Homo sapiens: one gene and its partners. The protein of the gene in region 1 purifies or fractionates together with the protein of each later gene. This does not show direct contact. Each region holds a gene or a part of one and is shown on either strand. Other genes may lie near its edges.

The links.
Region 2: the proteins of DLX6 (region 1) and GRHL1 purify together in Homo sapiens (co-immunoprecipitation; one large-scale study listed by IntAct). This does not show direct contact.
Region 3: the proteins of DLX6 (region 1) and GIP purify together in Homo sapiens (affinity purification with mass spectrometry; one large-scale study listed by BioGRID and IntAct). This does not show direct contact.

What each region holds. Positions count from the first base shown.
Region 1 is NC_000007.14:97,008,409-97,011,626, forward strand, and holds the end of DLX6 (homeobox protein DLX-6), read left to right. Parts: intron 1-1,387; coding exon 1,388-1,639; 3' UTR 1,640-2,632; downstream 2,633-3,218.
Region 2 is NC_000002.12:9,989,516-9,993,245, forward strand, and holds part of GRHL1 (grainyhead-like protein 1 homolog), read left to right. Parts: intron 1-1,180; coding exon 1,181-1,232; coding exon of another isoform or gene 1,233-1,268; intron 1,269-2,491; coding exon 2,492-2,631; exon of another isoform or gene 2,632-2,801; intron 2,802-3,459; exon of another isoform or gene 3,460-3,691; coding exon 3,692-3,729; exon of another isoform or gene 3,730-3,730. UniProt on the Homo sapiens protein: Transcription factor involved in epithelial development. Binds directly to the consensus DNA sequence 5'-AACCGGTT-3'.
Region 3 is NC_000017.11:48,958,597-48,962,096, forward strand, and holds part of GIP (gastric inhibitory polypeptide preproprotein), read right to left. Parts: intron 3,224-3,500; coding exon 3,131-3,223; intron 2,392-3,130; coding exon 2,290-2,391; intron 121-2,289; coding exon 111-120; 3' UTR 1-110. UniProt on the Homo sapiens protein: Potent stimulator of insulin secretion and relatively poor inhibitor of gastric acid secretion.

The DNA of each region.
Region 1 (3,218 bases):
GGGTGACAGACTGATGTGGTCTGAGCTGCCTCCCTGGAGCACAGGACTTGGGTGCAGTGGCAGAGTTGGAGATCAAAGAGAAATGTTACCAAAATTGTAACAGGTGAAGCCACAGTTAAGTACAGTTACTGAAGTTCTCCCATCCTACTAATTTGAAAGCCATAGAAGGCATTTCAGATTTCACAAGAAGGAGCTTAGGTGAGTATATTAGGACCCTGGTCAAAAAGCCAGGCTGCAATCACCTGCAGTTTTTGTTGATTAATTTACCTACATGGAGTAAGTAGGCCTCATCTGATGTAGGTAATCTTCAGCAAGGGGACCTCAGGTTTTATGAGACTGTTGCTGCAGACTGATTGTGTGTTGACTTAAGACAGTTGTTCCTTAAGCTCTTTTTCAATTTAGCCTGTTTTCTCTTTCCATATTGCTATTCATAATATTTGGGGTTTGATATGAAGGGATTCCGGCTATTCAGTGACTTGTATGCGTCTTGAAAAAGTAGATTCTTATGGCTAGGGAATTTTAAAGGTAAAGGAAGCTGCACCATAAAATTTCCTTCTTCAAATAAAGTAGATCTGAAATGTTGGCCTAGATATGCTCCCATCCCAGATTCCCGATTCACGTTTAATTTTCAGAAGCCCTTTGACTTTTAATTACTATACTAACAATCATGTGATGATCCTTGACCACAGTTTGACTAGGCAACATACAAAATAGGGAATGAAGGAGCTGCAGTCCTTAATCCCTGCAAGGTTATGGGGATATATTTATGTCTGGAGAAAGATGCTTCATGTATAATCTATGGCATATGCAATATATGCATAGATATATTCAAGGCATTTAGTTATAAATGTACAGGCTTTAATTCCTTCAGTCATTTGCTCCTTGTACCTTTATAGAGATAACAGCTTTTGGGTATCTCTATGCATGTACACGGAGAAAATGACTGTGTAAAATAGTTATTTTACATAGACTAAATTTACATTACTAAATTTTATGTAAAATGACAAGACTTTCAGAGGAGGTGCATTCAATTGAATGGCTTTGATTTGAAAGGGCTGCTTTTAAAAATCCTTTAGGCTTTGGACCTGGTCATCTCATTCAGCTTTTTCTTATTTATACTGTTGTTTTAAACCTACGCTAGCACGCAATTCTAGAATTACAATAACTTTAGGTATCCAGGCAAGATACCTAGTATGTTGTAGGAAGTGGGACTGTAAGAGGCTAGAAAGAGGTGGAAGGAGGCGGGGACTTGGCTTGTAGGCGTTGGCGGTGGTTGTTTTTTGTTTTTTGTTTTTTTGCTTTTTTAATATTGCTTCTAAATCCCTGAGTGACGTTAGAGGCACTGGTTTGATGTTTATGGGCCTAATGATTGCTGCATTTCTTGCAGGTGAAGATATGGTTTCAGAACAAACGCTCTAAGTTTAAGAAACTGCTGAAGCAGGGCAGTAATCCTCATGAGAGCGACCCCCTCCAGGGCTCGGCGGCCCTGTCGCCACGCTCGCCAGCGCTGCCTCCAGTCTGGGACGTTTCTGCCTCGGCCAAGGGTGTCAGTATGCCCCCCAACAGCTACATGCCTGGCTATTCTCACTGGTACTCCTCTCCACACCAGGACACGATGCAGAGACCACAGATGATGTGAGTTGCCCAAGGGAACACCCTAGGGAAACGTCTGAACAAGGAAAAGAGGATCCGGGACCTGCTTGTATCTGCGAAAAGGAGCCAAAGGAGCAGGCTTAGGAGAGCTCATAAGTGTGGCAAGAAGCCGACTAGGCTCATTCTCTCTCCCTCTCTCTCTCTCTCCCTCTCCTTTCTTTTTACTTCTTCCTTTCCTCCATTCCTTCTTTCTTTCCTTTTCCTTTCTACCTTTCTTTTCTTTTTGCCTTTCACCTTTTTTCTCATTTACCTTCTCTCTTGAGCAACGTCAGTAATTGATCTTGCATCTCAGAGAGAGAGAAAGAGCATGTGTGAGAGAGAAACTGGTTTCTATGCCAGCACTCCTGAAACCCCTTACTGTAAGGATATTTTCTCTTACCCCTTGGGATCCAGGCTCTGAGTCTCTTCTCTTTGGGAGTATCCATCAAAATGACTTTTTTTAAAAACAGATTTTCCCCCAACCAGAAGAATCTGCACAAACTTGGCAGCGTTTTTACTTGTTTAATGAGTTTAAGACATTACATGGTGAAAGAGAAGCATTTTGGACTCCTGCATTTTTATTTACCATTCCCAGACTGACGAGAAAAAGAAAATTCCTCACATAACAGCCCTTCTCTAAAGAAAAAGGAAAAAGTGGCTGTAAGATTAGAACATTGCTACAAAGGGAATGCTGCATGTTTTATCAAAATGCAATGACCAGGAATGATGGTTGATTAAAAAAAAACAAAACAAAAACCACTCTTTCCCCACCCCACCCCCCCAAACCCTGAACTGGAATCAGGAAAGACGGAGGAAACAATCAAAATCACCATTCTATTGCTTTGACACCTTTACTAGGTGAATTGGTGGCATTCACAAAGCTAATAGGGACGTTTATATCAAGAAACATTTCTGTATATATTGTTGAATTTTAGTTGTACATATACTTTGTATGTTTTTGTCTTCTTTCATATATGGAGTAAAAGCCACAAAACGCTGAGTGTCTTGTATATTTCTCTCTCTGTGTGTCTCTGTCCCTCTCTTTCCTCCCTCCTCCCTCACTTCCCTTCCCCCCATTAAATTTTCTATCACCCTTAAAAAAATTCCTATTTCCTAATATGGGAAGTCATATGTATATATATGAACATCAAGTGCCTGCAAAGATGTCAGTTTGCACACTAGCCTTTGTCTTAGGTAGTTTAACATTAACCATGGATGTTCTTTCAACTTTCTTTACATATTACGTTTTTATTGTAATTTCTACACATTTACCTATGTTTTAAACATTAGAATGACCTATCCTCAAGTTAACTTCTAGACATCACAGTAGTTTCTAGTGCTGAAACTGAGTATTCTCCTTTCCCTTTTCCCAGCCAAAATAATACAGCCATATTTGTCTTTGTTTGGATGCAGTTTTTTAAAATATAGGAAAGAAAAAAATAGAGAGTAGAGTGCACAATTATGCCTACTTAATGTTTAAAACCCATTGCCAGCTAGCTAGGTAGGAAAATGCACTATGCTGGATGAAATACATCCTTCCGATCTTGGGGAAAGCACAGAAATAATGAAAATGAAAAGTCCTTTCG
Region 2 (3,730 bases), on another chromosome or scaffold:
TACACGAGTGTCTTTTTCTAGGACTCTGAGTACACTTTTTCTCTTTTTTCTTTGAGGGAGTCTCACTCTGTCACCCAGACTGGAGTACAGTGGTGCGATCCCAGCTCACCGCAATCTCTACCTCCCAGGTTCAACTGATTCTCCTGCCTCAGCCTCCCGAGTAGCTGGGATTACAGGCATGCATCACCACGCCCGGCTAAATTTTTTGTATTTTTAATGGAGACAGGGTTTCCCATGTTGGCCAGGCTGGTCGTGAACTCCTGGCCTCAAGGGATCCACCCACCTCGGCCTCCCAAAATGCTGGGATTACAAGCGTGAGCCACCGCGCCCAGCCCACTTGTTCTCTTTTAAGTGATGATGCATATTTCTAGTTCCATCTTCACTTTGTGAATTCTGCTTGGTTAGATCTGCCACATGGTTGATACCAGGCCCTTGGACTGAATCACAGCCTTCAGTGATAACCTTGGCCATATAGGAGAGTATACTCAAGAGTAGGGCCAACTTGGGTTTTTTCTTTCATTTCCTTTTCCTACTGGACAAAGGGAAAATACCCTTGTGTCTTTGCAGGCATGTGGTATACTCACAGATTTTCTCAGCTTTCATTTAACACGACCACATCCATTATAAGGAGAAATTTTGCTTTTTTTTTTTGAGACAGAGTTTCGCTTTGTCACCCAGGCTGGAGTGCAGTGGTGTGATCTCAGCTCACTGCAACCTCCACCTCTCAGGGGTTCAAGCAGTTCTCCTGCCTCAGCCTCCCAAGTAGCTGGGACTACAGGTGCCCGCTACCACGCCTGGCTAATTTTTGTATTTTTAGTAGAGGTGGGGTTTCACCATGTTGGCCAGGCTGGTCTCGAACTCCTGACCTCAAATGATCCACCCACCTCGGCCTCCCAAAGTGCTGGGATTACAGGCATGAGCTACCGCTTCCGGCCGGAATTTTGCTTTATTTGTTTTTCAAATAAATGTTGTTCCCTGTGATTTCATAGAATTAAAAATAATTTTAAGACTAATCTTTTTAGAAGAAACTACTATGATAAGCCTCATGAATATAGTAAGTAATGGGGTTCCTGTCCAGAGAAGGGAGAAAGGCTTCTTCTTCCATTGGTCAGGATAAGAGTTAAATATTTTAAAGAAGATTGGAAAACAGAATCATATCTTGTCTTCTCTTAACCTACAGGGAGCTGAGCGGAAAATCAGGGATGAAGAACGAAAGCAAAGCAAAAGAAAAGGCAAGTGTCCTGACCCCAGCTCCCAGGTGAATGCCTGTAAGTAGAAATGTTCCCGGCAAGCTTCAGACCTTTTCCATTGAGAATGGTGGCTGGAGTTTGCACGCAGAAGACAGTGGGTGTTCTTCCTGTTCTGCAGTGTGGCACTGCCTCTTCCTCAGATCAGCAGCAGATGCCAGCTCAGCGGGAGGGGTTTTCCTGGGGACTACAGGATAGATCCCTGGGTTTTCCCGACCTCAGCGTTTTTGGCTCTCAGTTCTAGTTCAGACTTCTGTTTCCAGTCTTGAAAAATGACAACACGTTCTGCATGAATCACTGTTAAAATTGGGACTTATCTAGATTTTTTAAAGTAATAATAATGGTCTTGAGAATTCAAGATGTCTTAACTCCAAGTAAGATCATATTTTGTATCTAAAGTATAGTATTTTAATATTTGCAGAATCTATAGGGCTTCTGTTTGGACATTTCACCAGGAAGGCTTTGTTTTCTTTTTTTTTTAATTGTGACCAGTATTCATATTCACAAAATCTTGTATCTAAAATGAAGAAAGTGCTGTTCTGTGCCTGTAGGGTTCCATCTGTAGTACATGGGCTTCTGGCAGCTCTTTTGAATGGTCTGTCTGGCTCAGCAGACATTTGCCCTGCAACACCTTAGTCAGGATTCTCCTACTGGTATCAAAGTACAAACTCCCAGTGACACTTCAGAGAGCAGCTGACTAACTAGGAGACCTCATTACTGAGTACTTCAGGGCCAGCCAGATCATTGGGGAAGATGGAGTCTCTAACTTACTAAATTAAAAATTGGATGGGCATGCTTACACTTCACCTCATTGTCGAGTTTCTTGATATGTTCTGAAGTCAATGGGTCCATGAGTGTTGGAATGTAAATTATTTAATGAGGACAGCTGAGGTGAAATTTCTTCCAAATTATGTTTACACAATTATACATTTTAGCCTTTCCAATGAAAACTAAATACGCTCTGCCTCTGTCGCAAATCTTCTGTGGATATGCGTCTGTGTGTGTTTGAAGATACCTTTTCCCTTTTGATTTGATAAGACATTCAGTTGATTTTAGTGGAAATACACACAACAAATTCCTTTACATAAACTGGGATTCTTAGGCAGGCAGCGTGCCCTGTTGTATCTTACAGAGTGCTACACTTGGAGTATCTTACTCAGAGGCGAGCACTCTGTGGCCTGCATCCAGTCTGTATGTAATCCTTTGACCTTGGCTTCCTCTTTTTTAATTTTTTTTTTTTTCAGTTTCTGATGTTAAAGTGCCACTGCTTCCCTCTCACAAGCGAATGGATATCACAGTTTTCAAACCCTTCATTGATCTCGATACTCAGCCTGTCCTCTTCATTCCTGACGTGCACTTTGCCAACTTGCAGCGGGGCACTCATGTAGGTAACCAGGATCCCAGGGGAGGTTACCAGGAAGGAAGGCATGGCAAAAGGAAATTCTTTGGCATTATTCATGGGAAACAGAAGCCAAAATTGAGTGAGGTTTGACCAGTTAGTCAGCTCTTTGGAATATTCTGCTGGGGTGACATGATGCCCGTGCAATAAAAATGGTAAGCATCGCTGATTTCAAGGTGCAGTGCAGCCTGTCAGCTTTATTCTGTTTGTATTCATTCATTCATTCGTTCGTTCTTCATACCTACATATCCTAGCTCATTTAAAAGATTCTAGAATAGTAGCATAATTTGGAGTTTGAGCCTGTCATCTTTTTAAACTTAACTTGGGGCAATACCTAGGTTAAGGAGCTCTTATAACATAAGAACATCCGAAGGCTTTTCTCACAGTTCCAGTTACTGAGCCGTCCTTGCCACGTGTAGTTACCAATGGCCATGTCTTGGCAACTAAAACTAAATTTTAAAAAATGGTCACGCCCTGTTTTGTGGCAAAGGCTTACAAGGGATAGAAACTTCAGTAGAATGAAGCATGGTTTTATGCTGAGTGCAAATAAATATCAAAAAGACAGTCTTTCATGCACTTTGTGGACAGATTTATAAGGACTAAAGATTCGTCAGAGTTCTTGGGGCCATGGCCAGTACATTTAGTTTCTAATGGGAAGCTGGAGGTGAGCAGGGGTTAGCACACTGTTTTTGTGAAGGGCTGGGCCGTAAAGGTTTTCAGCTTTTGGGGCCCCGTGGTCTCCACTGTGCTGCTCAGTGCTGCCGAACTAGTGCACACATGGCCATAAGCAGCATGTGAATGAATGAGCGTGGCTTTGTTTCAGTAAAGACTTTATTTACATGAACTGGCTTTAGACCAGATTTGGCCCAACCACTGAGTTAAAGGAGTTCAAGACATCTGTAAGAATCTGTTATTGAAAACTAAGGCTAAAGGATTTTATATTAGATTGGTGAAATTCAAAATTATTTCCATTTTAGGAATAATTCATTTATGGCCAAACATTTTGAGCATACATTTGAAAAGCAATCTATTCCTTTGGTCTTAGGTCCTTCCCATTGCCTCTGAAGAATTGGAGGGTGAAGGG
Region 3 (3,500 bases), on another chromosome or scaffold:
GACTTAGCATAAACTTTATTGGTTTGGGTTCTCTTGGCTATTCTGGAGTGGGGCTGAGGCAGGTGCTAAGTGAAGGGCAGAATCCAGTCCTGAGCTGGGTGTGGTCAGAGTCACCGAGACCTGGGGAGAGTGGGGAAAGGAGAAGAAGGTTGTTATGGACTTGGAGTCGGCCAAGCACATTTATCCTGGGACCCAACCATTGTTGAACCCCTCCTACCTTCAAATCACCTTTTTAAATATTTTAATTTTTATCAATTTACTTTTTTTTTTTTTTTTGAGACGGAGTCTCGCTCTGTCGCCCAGGCTGGAGTGCAGTGGCGCGATCTCGGCTCACCGCAAGCTCCACCTCCTGGGTTCACGCCATTCTCCTGCCTCAGCCTCCCGAGTAGCTGGGACTACAGGCGCCCGCCTCCACGCCCAGCTAATTTTTTGTATTTTTAATAGAGACAGGGTTTCACTGTGTTAGCCAGGATGGTCTCGATCTCCTGACCTCATGATCCACCCTCCTCGGCCTCCCAAAGTCCTGGGATTACAGGCATGAGCCACCATACCCGGCCTCATTTTACTTATTTTTTAAGAGACAGTCTCACTGTGGTGCCCAAGCTGGAGTGCAGTGACTGTTTACAGATGTGATCATAGATCACTGCAGTCTTGAACTCCTGGCCTCAAGCAATGCTCCCACCTTTGCCTCATCAAATCACCATTTTAATGATAAGTAATCAAAATAATTCACAATATCCACCTTCTTACGGAGATTTTCTTACACCCTCTTCTCCATGGATCTGCTCACACTCCTGTCCCTTCTTCCCCTCCTGAGGTTCCTGTCCCAGATTTGCTCCCTCAATCCCTCCCTAGCTGCTCAGCATCAATGTCTGAAGTGTTTTGGTTTCCGTGCCTCTGTGTCTGCATCATGAGGGTCCTGTCTCACCCTTTAGGTGGACAGGTGTCTTCATAATATTTAGTGCCTCGATTCTGGGACATAAGGAATGGACTGAAGAATTTTCTAGCTGATGAGGGGGATTCAAGAGACCATTGAAGCCAGCAGTGGCCACAGAGGAAGGAAACATGCCTCTAACTATGTAGTTTCCCATCACCAGGAAGGTGCCATGGCCCAAGGGTACAGAGGGAAAGCTGAGAACAGGATGGGCTCAGCTCTGTGTGTAGGGACAGGCAGGACACAGGATGGGCTCAGCTCGGTGGGTAGGGACAGGCGGGACACAGGATGGGCTCAGCTCGGTGGGTAGGGACAGGCAGGCCACAGGATGGGCTCAGCTCTGTGTGTAGGGACAGGCAGGCCACAGGATGGGCTCAGCTCGGTGGGTAGGGACAGGCAGGCCACAGGATGGGCTCAGCTCGGTGGGTAGGGACAGGCGGGACACAGGATGGGCTCAGCTCGGTGGGTAGGGACAGGCAGGCCACAGGATGGGCTCAGCTCGGTGGGTAGGGACAGGCGGGCCACAGGATGGGCTCAGCTCTGTGTGTAGGGACAGGCGGGACACAGGATGGGCTCAGCTCGGTGGGTAGGGACAGGCGGGACACAGGATGGGCTCAGCTCGGTGGGTAGGGACAGGCAGGCCACAGGATGGGCTCAGCTCGGTGGGTAGGGACAGGCGGGACATAGGATGGGCTCAGCTCTGTGTGTAGGGACAGGCAGGCCACAGGATGGGCTCAGCTCGGTGGGTAGGGACAGGCGGGACACAGGATGGGCTCAGCTCTGTGTGTAGGGACAGGCGGGACACAGGATGGGCTCAGCTCGGTGGGTAGGGACAGGCGGGACACAGGATGGGCTCAGCTCTGTGTGTAGGGACAGGCAGGCCACAGGATGGGCTCAGCTCTGTGTGTAGGGACAGGCGGGACACAGGATGGGCTCAGCTCGGTGGGTAGGGACAGGCGGGGCATAGGATGGGCTCTGGGTGGGTAGAGACAGGCAGGTAGGGATAGGCAGGGGAGAGCATCACCTCGCCTGGAAGAGTGAGGAAGAAGAACAAATAGTAATCAGAGCTACTAACCTTGCTGAGCTCTTATTACTCCTCAAAGATGGCCCTCAGGTCTCCACTTGAATTGTCTTTTTTTTCTTTTGTTTTTTTTCTTTGTATTTTTCCACTTGCATTCTCTTACTTAAAGCTGACAACAATCCTGTGAAATGATTCTATACCTCTGATTTTAGTGAAAACACTGAGGTTCAGAAAGGCTATGTAATCAGCCAGCATGTGGAGGGGCAAAGATCTGAATCCATGTCTGATGCCCAAGCTCAAGTTAGAACCGCTGTGCAACACCACACTCCCCTACCTGAGCCTGCAGAGGTTTGTCTGATCCAGCAAGCAGGCCAACAGCTCTTGAATCAGCAAGTCCCGCAGCAAATCTTCATCGCTGGGGTTCTTGGCTGGGGAGCTGCAAGGGAACAGTCTCTGGCTAACTATTTTAGCCTGAGCTTCGCCCAGAGAGGGTAAACACAGGGTTGGGGACACCACTGAGGGGCAGCCGCGGATGGGGGGAGGGAGCCGACACAGCTATCTCTCCGTTGGCTCAGCTCTGAGATCTGGAGCCTCCTTTCTGCCAGCCCCACCCAGCGCTGCCTGCCTGGGGAATATGGACTCTTCATACAGGGAGAGTCAAACAGAATTCTGGTATGAGATATTCTGCCCATCCACCTCTGCCAGTGTTCCAGAATGCAGAGAGTACTTTGGGCACATTCACTCTTTGAAATGACCTGTGCCATTCAGAGAGGGGATAACTGATTTCAGGGGAGTGGGCCTGGGAAGATCCCCCGCTCTTTCACAAACAGTCTTCCCGAGGTTTGGCAGGGAGAGGTGGTGAGGCCAGGACCTGAGGTCTCTTCTTTCCTGCCCTTCTCCTGACTCAGTGACTGTGCTGTGCATGCAGTCATCAATATTAGAAACCCTGTCCCTGAAACCCCTCCTAGCACCCCTCCCGTTTCTCCAAGGCTTCTTCCTTAAGCTTGGGCTGACCTCCAGGAGTTTGCTCAATGAAGACCCCTCTTTGAACTCTGAGAGGAAGAGGATGCTTATCTCAGGTCCTTGCTCTGCTCTGGGGTCAGGGAGAGGGAACAAAGAGGTGGGGGCGGGGCAGGAGGCTTGGCTCCCTCCCTTCCCTCTGCGCCCTGACTCACCTCTGTGGCTCCACTGCCTCCTCCTCCTTCCTATTAGCTTGACTGGCCAGCTCCAGCGCCCGAGCCTCCCTCTGGGTGATGTTGTGTTTCCAGCTGGGAAGATAAAGATTAGAGAGTGGGCAAGCTGCGGAGACTCCAGTCTAGGGACACTTGAATCTTTTAATATCTGAACCCCAAAAGCAGAGGGTACCTTTTTCCACTCAACCCCACCTAACAGTGGTCTTCAGCTGCCTCCACCAGTGAACAGCTTTTCAGAATCTACCGTGCTGACCAGAGAGGGCGGGGAAAGAGACTTGGCATAGAGCAGGGAGAAGGACGAGGACAGTTAATCTTCTCTTCATTTTTTTTGGTGTGTGTGTGAGAGACAGGG